2 separate regions of the Homo sapiens genome follow, and region 2 is linked to region 1. Evidence: fine-mapped QTL for protein levels in blood plasma. A gene starts in region 1. The other region holds a variant in brackets. All regions are shown on one strand. Distances are between the middles of the regions.

Region 1 (4,388 bases):
AGCCTAAGCCTATCTGTCCAGAGCCCAGGCTCCCTTTCCCTACAACTGCAGCCTCCTTATTCTGGTCTGGCCCAGCAGAGTGAGGAGGGGCCACCCACCCAGCCATACCTGCTGGTGGCTGCTGGGGGTGCATGTTCAGAAGAGGAAAAGATGCGGTTCAGGTAGTCATTCAGCAGCTTCTCCTGCACAATGCCTGAGCCACAAGTCAGAAGGGAGAAAAGGGCCACATGATCAGTGCAGCTCCTGGCCCCTGCTGGCCCCAGAGACTTCTGGTCCTAGGCCAGCCACAGGTGCAGCAAGGCCTGAGGCCTTTGTCCCTTCCTTCTCCTCCCAACAAGAGGAGCCTCCTTCCTTCCCTGCCAGCTCTTACCTGTGACCCTGGATTTCTCAGCATCTGAGGTCAGCCTATAGCTCTTGCGGGAGAAAGACATGCCGGCCCCCTTGGATGCCATCCTTCATCTCTCATGGGCAGCCAGTGGTCCTGGGGGCTGAGCCAGACACAGAGCCTGTCTACTCAGGGCCAGCCAGGGGCCCCCACACCTGACCTCAGTCCTGCCATGGCAGGAAGGCTTGGGAGCAGGTGAGGCCAGGGGCATGCACACTAACACATAGGGCAGGGGAATGCAGGGGCTCCCAGCTTCCTACACAGGGAGGGTAGCCAGGGTCTAGGCCCATGTAACAGGGACCACTTCTTGTTCTCCAGTGTCCCTGTGCCCAGCACAGGGCTGGGCAGAGAGCAGGTACTAGATATATTTTTGCCGAACCATAACAAAATGTCTCAGCTCTGTGGAAATCAGACCAAAATGTCCAAAGTGAGGTGTCCTAGGGGCAGAGCCCCTGTATCCATCTCAGTTGTAAGCCATACTGAGTCCAGCTCACAACCAGAAGCGACAATCCTACACATTCCCCCAAGTGCAGACCACCACTGGTCTGGTCATCTCTAGCCATAAGTCCCACTTACTCCCCACAAGGCTGGAGCCTCTTTCCTCAGCCCTGGGTTCCTCCCTTCTTTTATCCATGGTCCTGATAGTTTCACCATTCCCACTCACACATGTGGCCTCCCACCTCATCCAAGCACCACCCTTGCCCAGCCCTCATGGCAAACTCCATTGGTCCTCCTAGTGCATCTATCCCTCACATCATGTTGCTGCTGCAGCTGCTCCAGAACCTGCACTGAGTCCCTGGTGCTGGCCTCACTGATGTGTAGCGGTGCTGTCCAACACAGCAGCCGTCATCCACATGAGGTTACTTAAATTTAAAGTTTTAAAAATTAACAATTCGATTTCTCAGTTGCCTTAGCCACATTTCAAGAGTTCAATGACCACATGTGGCTAATGGTTACTCTGTTGGACAGCACAAAGGTAGAACGTTCCCACCATCATATAAAGTTCTATTAGACAGCGCAGGTCTAGAGTTTCGCTCTGCAGCACTGCCTTAGCCAGCACTCCCTACTCTGCAGTTCAGTCTCTTATCTCACCCCAAACAGACCCTCTACTCCCGCCACAAACCCTTGTGGGTCTGCACCACGCCTGCTCCTCGGGAAGGTGATTTTCCCGACCTCGGGCCCTCGGTGGGCGTCCATGATCGGTGCCCCTTCACTACCAGAGTAGTTGAAGATCTGATTAAACTCAGTCATTCATTTGATGAGCAGACCTTCCAGACACCCGGAGTGGGCTCCGGGAGTCAGTTGCTGAGGACCCAGGTGAGAGGCGGACCTTGTCCCCGCCCGGGGACTCCCTGTCACGGCTATCCCGTCCAACCCCGCCGGGGTATCCGGACTCAGAACTGAACCTACTCCGTCTGGGAGCCCAAGGACGGCGAGGGCGGCGCATGGCTCCCCCAAGTCGCCCCCGCCTGGCCCCAAGCTCCACAGGACCTGCCAGACCAGCTTCCGCTCGGAGTTTCGCACCCAGATCCCTGCGCTGCAGGTGCCCTCGCACTGGACTAGCCCGGACCGCGAAGGGAATAGCCGGAACCCGCCAGGCTCAGAGCCCTGCCGCCCCTCACTCACCCGGAGCCTCGGCCGCAGCGACCCGGCTCACAACATCCGCCCAACCTCTTGGCTACGGCGTCCGTTCAGGGCCAAATCACGCGCACGCTTGCGCGCTGAGCCTCCAGCCGCGCACGCGCACTGGCCCGCGCCCAGCCTCCGCTAGGGGACCCCCTCCATGGCTTCCCACCGGGTTGTTCCAGGCCTCAGCTTCGCCGAAAGGCCTCACCACCTCCGACCTCCGCCTGCTCTGGGGATGCTCCCAGCCCTGCTGCGGCAGAACGCGACATGCTAACCGGAATCCCTAGGCCGCCTGTCTCCTACCCATACTTAGAGGCCCCGCTCAGACGGTCCTTAAAACGTCTGAAAGGCCGTTCCTGCCAGAGTCCCTGCTACCTGTTACCTCCACCCCTATTTAGTCCTAGTGGACAGCCTCGCTCACCTTCCCTGGGATGACACTTCTGGCGGCTGAGATGAGCGAGCCTCTCTGGGCTCTGCCGCCGGGTGTGGGCTGACCTGCCTACAGCTGGGGCCTGATAAGGCAGCAGCAAAAGGGTGGAGGGGAGGCAGTGTTGAAGCTGGGGCAAGTAATTTTCCCCAATTTACAGGGAAAAACCGAAATTCAGAAAAGTTTAATGTCACCCAGGGGCTGGAGCCCAGACCTCTGGCAGCTCTCACTTTCACAATGCCCTTGGGCTGACTAGGCTGCAGAGGGGTTTCACCCCAACCCCAGGGCACCTCAAGTGTCCCCACCAAACCTTCCTAACACCTGTCCACTAAGCTGTACTAGGCCCTTGCAACTGACCTATGGGACCTGAGGCCTGGCCCCTCATGGCTCCTGTCACCAGGTCTCAGGTCAGGGTCCAGCAGGCCCTGAGCTGACGTGTGGAGCCAGAGCCACCCAATCCCGTAGGGACAGGTTTCACAACTTCCCGGATGGGGCTGTGGTGGGTCACAGTGCAGCCTCCAGCCAGAAGGATGGGGTGGCTCCCACTCCTGCTGCTTCTGACTCAATGCTTAGGGGTCCCTGGTAAGTGCCCCCAACCCTGATCCCCATCTGCCTTCAGGAGGGGGTTGGCCCCATTCTCCTATTCTAGGATGAGAAAAAAGTCGGGGAGCCAGAGGCTCAGTGGGCATGGGGCAGTGACCTTGCCCTCTTGAGCACAGCTGGGAAGCCCTAGGAACACATAGACATTGCCCACTTAGGCCTCTATTAGCACGTCTGCTCTAGCACTGAAGCAGTGTCAGGACCACACAGATGCACGCACACAGCAGGCAGTGACCCCTCCTGAGCCTGATCTACCCCTCTAACCTAGCATATGCCTTTGTGCAGGTGAGAGCCCAGATTTGGAGTCTGAATGCCTAGCCAGGGCCCCTGGCTGGGTAATGTGATGGCTCTGAGCCTTAGCATTCTCATTTGAGAGATGAGGTGGGGCAAGCTTCATCACCCACTGCTCTCACAGAGCGTATGTGTTAGATCTGAGCCCGGTGCCTGGGCCACTAAACAGAGGCACCGGTGATAACTACCAAGTCTGGGCCTGCTTCCCAGGGGAAATTTTTTTCACAAGTATCTGTGCAGGGGGCTAGACTGGCCCTTGAAAGTGCATACAGGGTCCATCCCAGAAGCCTTGTAGCTTTGATCCCCTGAATGAACAAAGTGTGGACATGCCAATACACATTACTGACATGTATGCCCACCTGACCTGCACCCACTCATGCCTACTCTGCAGGGCAGCGCTCGCCATTGAATGACTTCCAAGTGCTCCGGGGCACAGAGCTACAGCACCTGCTACATGCGGTGGTGCCCGGGCCTTGGCAGGAGGATGTGGCAGATGCTGAAGAGTGTGCTGGTCGCTGTGGGCCCTTAATGGACTGCCGGTGAGTGGCCACTGGGCCTAGATAAGACTGGGGGCAGGGAAGCCTGGGCTGTGGCGTTACCCTGTGCCTTCTTCTCTCCAGGGCCTTCCACTACAACGTGAGCAGCCATGGTTGCCAACTGCTGCCATGGACTCAACACTCGCCCCACACGAGGCTGCGGCGTTCTGGGCGCTGTGACCTCTTCCAGAAGAAAGGCAAGTGGGGGTGGAGAGGGGCAGGGTGGGAGACAGGGGACCTCAGCCCAAGTTGATCTTCTGTCTCTTGCTCCCAGACTACGTACGGACCTGCATCATGAACAATGGGGTTGGGTACCGGGGCACCATGGCCACGACCGTGGGTGGCCTGCCCTGCCAGGCTTGGAGCCACAAGTTCCCAAATGATCACAAGTGAGACAAACACCTTCCCTCCGTCCCGGCCTGGGGCCTTCCCCCAGCACACACTATAGTGATGCTCTGGGCCCTCAGGTACACGCCCACTCTCCGGAATGGCCTGGAAGAGAACTTCTGCCGTAACCCTGATG
Region 2 (4,388 bases), 65 kb before region 1:
TTTCTTTTTGTGCATTTCATTTTGATTTCCCCTGTATCACTTTGAACGTCAGTTCTGAAAATTCTTCACATATCTCCTTTCCCCCACTTCTTAGTACATTTGACACAGCTGATGTCAAAAGGGTCTTTACTAAAAAATGTATTTAGGGAAGCACATATTTCTAATCTTTAGGAATCCAGTAAAAACAGGAAAGAGGTTCAGTGGACTCTAGATTCTCTCCTTGACCTAAATTAATTCTGTTCTTGCTGTTCGTTGATGGGCTGGCACATCTCAGGTCCCCTGCTAAGTTTCCTTTTTTCCTTGTTCCCTGTTTGTTCTTAGCCAGGTGGCCTCAGGATGCCATGGTTTCCTAGCTCCTGTGATAGGACCCAGGAATCTAAACAATCTTTCATCTCTTCTTTAGAGACAAATGGCAACATAGATTCCCTCTCTTTCTTCTCCCAGATTACTCTAGACATCTATACACATTTCTGGTTTCTGAGGGATGTGCCAGTCCCTAGTAGCTTGGAAGGGTAGGTTCCAAGTAGGGTTGACAGCCCTACTTACATGAAGAACACTCCCTATGTTTCCCTTCTCCTCACGGTACAGGAGGATTGTTCTCTCTCACCCTCATAACTATGCCTAATCTATATCAGTGTCTACAGTCTCATATACAAAGGGAAGAATGGGCTTGAATTTAAGAAATCATTGGATTCCCTTGGTTGTAAGATTTAGAGGACAAACGTGTTTTCATGTTGGTTTTCTGCTATAGTGTTTTTGTCTGTGATTCTTGAAGGTGTTTTGGTATCTTTTCCTGTCAAAGTCCATGTCAATGCTTTTTTATTTCTGAAATTAATTAGAAATTAGTTTTCATAAAATCCAGAGCTGTATAGCCCAAGTTTTATGTGTTGTTCTTTTCTGTTAGAGTGACTTATCAGTTTATTTTCTCTTCAGCTCTTTTCAGTTCAATTAGTTTTATTATTTTTCCTTTGGATTGTATCATACAGTAAAAAACAAATTAAAGACACATTTGCCAAAACCAAAAATACTGTTGCCAGAATTTTACTTAGCATTCCTGACTTACCAAGTTTAACTTTAATTACACAAATTTTATGAATTTTAAAAAGGGTATGATACTTTGTCATGGTACCTATAGTGCTTAAGTGGATATATTTAATTTTAGAAGAGGTAATAGAAATACTGGATTTATAAACTAATTTTTAATGAAATGTTGAGGAAATCTGCAAATATACCTGTGAAATGTGAAGGCACTAAAGGTGCTTCACTTTATTCTATAAAAACATTGCAAATGTGGCTGGGCATGGTGGCTCATGCTTGTAATCCCAGCACTTTGGGAGGCCGAGACAAGTGGATATCTTGAGCTCGGGAGTTCGAGACCAGCCTGGGCAACATGGTGAAACCCTGTCTCTACAAAAAAAAAAAAAAAAAAAAAGCCAGGCTTGGTGGCACACACCTGTGTTTTCAACTACTTGGAAGGCTGATGATATGGGAGGATCACTTGAGCCCAGGAGGTCGAGGCTGTAGTGATGTAGTGAACTGTGTTGTGCCACTGCAATCTAGTCTGGACAACAGTGTGAGACCCTGTCTCAAAAAAAAAAAAAAGATTGCATATCAAACCCAAGTGGTTAATCTGAGGTTGTAAAAATATGTTGGCCAAATAATTTGGAATTCTAACTGAACTTCTTAGAGTATATACCTGCTGATCTGCATTTTTAGTGTGTGTCTGTGCCTGCCCAACTAAAGAATCTGGTGACCAGGTATTGTCTTGCAATTGCTGTAGAGACAGTGCCTTCCTAGCTCTTAAAGTAGTCCTGACCTTGTTCGCCACTATATCTGATTGCAGTCTCTTTTTCCCTGCCAAGGTTTTTTATTCATTGTCACTTTCTAGGCTTGATGTGTTGTTGCATTAAAATAAACACACACAAAAAAAAA[C/AC]TCATATGATTTCTCCTAAATTTGGTTCAACAAGTTCTTTAGTCTGGTTCTTCTCCTTACTATCATTATTATTGTCATTGAGACAGCATCTTGCTATGTTGCCCAGACTGGTCTTGAACTCCTGGCCTCAAGCAGTCCTTCCACCTTGGCCTTCCAAAGTGTTAGGATGACAGGTGTGAGCCACCATACATGGCCTGATTCATCTTTTTTTTTTTTCCCCTGAGACAAGATCTGAATCTGTCACCCAGGCTGGAGTGCTGTGGCATGATTTCAGCTGATTGCAACCTCCACCTCCTGGGCTCAAGCCATCCTCCCACCTCAGTCTCCTGAGTAGCTGGGACTATAGGTGTACACCACCACGCCTGGCTAATTTTTGTAATTTTTTTTTTTTTGGTAAAAGTGAAGTTTTGCCATGTTGCCTATGCTGGTCTCAAACTCCTGGGCTCAAGTGATCCTCCAGCCTTGGCCACCCAAAGTGTTAGGATTACAGGCATGACTACCACAGCTGGCCTGATTAATCTTTTATAGTTGAGATTATTTATGTGTTTGCCTGATTTTTTTCCCCCTTTTTAATCTCTTTTGTATCATTGATAAAAACAGTCTAATTCTCCTCCTCATAGGCTGTCTTTTTCCTTCTGTATTTTGCTTTGATTTTGTCCTTGTTATTGTGGCTATTCTCATTTGGGTGCATTTAAACCTATTTTTCCTTCATATATCAAATCTTAAAAGAGTTAAAACACAATTTTATGTTCTTTTTATTTGCTGACTTCGAATTCTGTCATGTGGCCAACATATTTTGTTTTTCATAAAGCCACATGACCCGTTTGTTCTGGTTTTTGCTAGGTCTAGGTTAGAAATGTAAACTTTTTTGGTTTATAACCCTAATATTTTAAAACAAAAAGAACTTGTCCCTTTATAAACACTTTTTCATATGTTATATATTTACCCTACTATATACATCTGTTATGTATATCATAAACATACATATATTTATTCAGCCAGATTTATTGTGTAGTTACTATATGCCAGGTACTACTCAGGGCACTTAGGATACTCATATAACTGACATCATCATCATAAATAATAAACAGTAGACATTATCAGTAAGTAAAGTATGTAATATGCCAGAAGGGGATAAATGCCTTAATGAAGAAAAGAAAAAGAAGAGCCAATTAAAGGGGGTGGAGGGTGCAGGTGGTGGTGTATTTTAAACTAGGGAGGGTAGGATAGACCTTTCATTGAGAAAGAGACATTTTGATCAAAGACTTTTGAAGGAGGTGAGGGAGTTGGCCATGTGGTTATCTGGGGGAAGAATGTTTAGGCAGAGGGAATGACTAGTGCAAAGAAGCTAGGGAATATATATATGCCTGATGTGTTTGAGGAACATCATGAAGGCCAGTATGGCTGGAGTGGGATAATAAGCAGTGGGGAGACAAGGGTAGGAAGTGAAGGCAGAGAGAAAATGGGGGTGGGAAGGAATGCAGAGCTTGTGGACTTTTTATTTTTTGACAGTCTCATGGCAAAAAGTGAAATGGCGGCCAGGCATAGTGGCTCATGCCTGTAATCCCAGCACTTTGGGAGGCTGAGGCAGGCAGGTCATCTTGAGGTCAGAAGTTTCAGACCAGCCTGGCCAACATGACAAAACCCCGTCTCTAGTAAAAATACAAAAATAAAATTAGCTGGGCATGGTGGGGTGCGCTTGTAGTCCCCACCTACTTGGGAGGCTGAGGCATGGGAATTGCTTGAACCCAGGAGGTGGAGGTTGCAGTAAGCCAAGATCGCACCACTGCACTCCAGCCTGGGTGACGAAGTGAGACTCTGTCTCAAAAAAAAAAAAAAAGGCTAGGCGCAGTGGCTCACGCCTGTAATCCCCAGCACTTTGGGAGGTCTAGGCGGGCAGATCACCTGAGGTCGGGAGTTAAAGACCAGTCTGGCCAACATGAGAAACCCCGTCTCTACGGTAGGAGAATCACTTGAACCTGGGAAGTGGAGATTGAGGTGAGCCGAGATTGCACCATTGCCACTCCAGCCTGAGCAACAAGAGCGAAACTCACACACACACACACACACATGCAAAAGTGAAATGGTTCCTTGGGTTTTTTTTTTTTGAGATGGAGTCTTGCTCTGTTGCCCAGGCTGGAGTGCAGTGGCGCGATCTCGGCTCACTGCAAGCTCTGCCTCCCAGGTTCCACGCCATTCTCCTGCCTCAGCCTCCCGAGTAGCTGGGACTACAGGCGCCCGCCACCACACCCGTCTAATTTTTTTGTATTTTTAGTAGAGACGGGGTTTCACTGTGTTAGCCAGGATGGTCTCAATCTCCTGACCTTGTGATCCACCCGCTTTGGCTTCCCAAAGTGCTGGGATTACAGGCGTGAGGCACTGCACCCGGCCAACCCTGTCTTTAAAAAAAAAAAATTTTTTTAAGTTAGCCGGGCATGGTGAATATACTTGTAGTC

Direction of the effects. Positions count from the first base shown, and alleles are read on the strand shown. Strength reflects both the effect of a copy and how common the allele is.
With allele C in place of AC in region 2, the plasma level of the protein whose gene starts at base 2,144 in region 1 is higher (strong association).

Evidence for each region. PIP is the posterior inclusion probability: the model's chance that the variant is causal. The UK Biobank Pharma Proteomics Project read protein levels with antibody pairs (Olink). The fine-mapping took linkage between variants from a reference panel, not from the people measured, so its PIPs are less certain.
Region 2: its variant is fine-mapped to the plasma level of the MST1 protein (UK Biobank, PIP 0.93).

Annotation. Positions count from the first base shown.
Region 1 is chr3:49,687,230-49,691,617 of GRCh38, reverse strand. It overlaps MST1 (macrophage stimulating 1), which reads left to right and starts at 2,144. Exons shown (of 18, transcript NM_020998.4): 1 at 2,144-3,020; 2 at 3,721-3,868; 3 at 3,950-4,062; 4 at 4,140-4,254; 5 at 4,333-4,388. The coding sequence starts at 2,927. It overlaps RNF123 (ring finger protein 123), which reads right to left and starts at 2,061. Exons shown (of 39, transcript NM_022064.5): 1 at 2,012-2,061; 2 at 371-488; 3 at 109-193. The coding sequence starts at 452. RefSeq lists enhancers at 2,231-2,790, 4,307-4,388.
Region 2 is chr3:49,752,141-49,756,528 of GRCh38, reverse strand. All of the region lies in intron 1 of IP6K1 (inositol hexakisphosphate kinase 1), which reads left to right. Among named protein-coding and RNA genes, the nearest start is that of GMPPB, 30 kb to the right of the region's middle. The variant C/AC (reference allele first, on the strand shown) is at 1,933.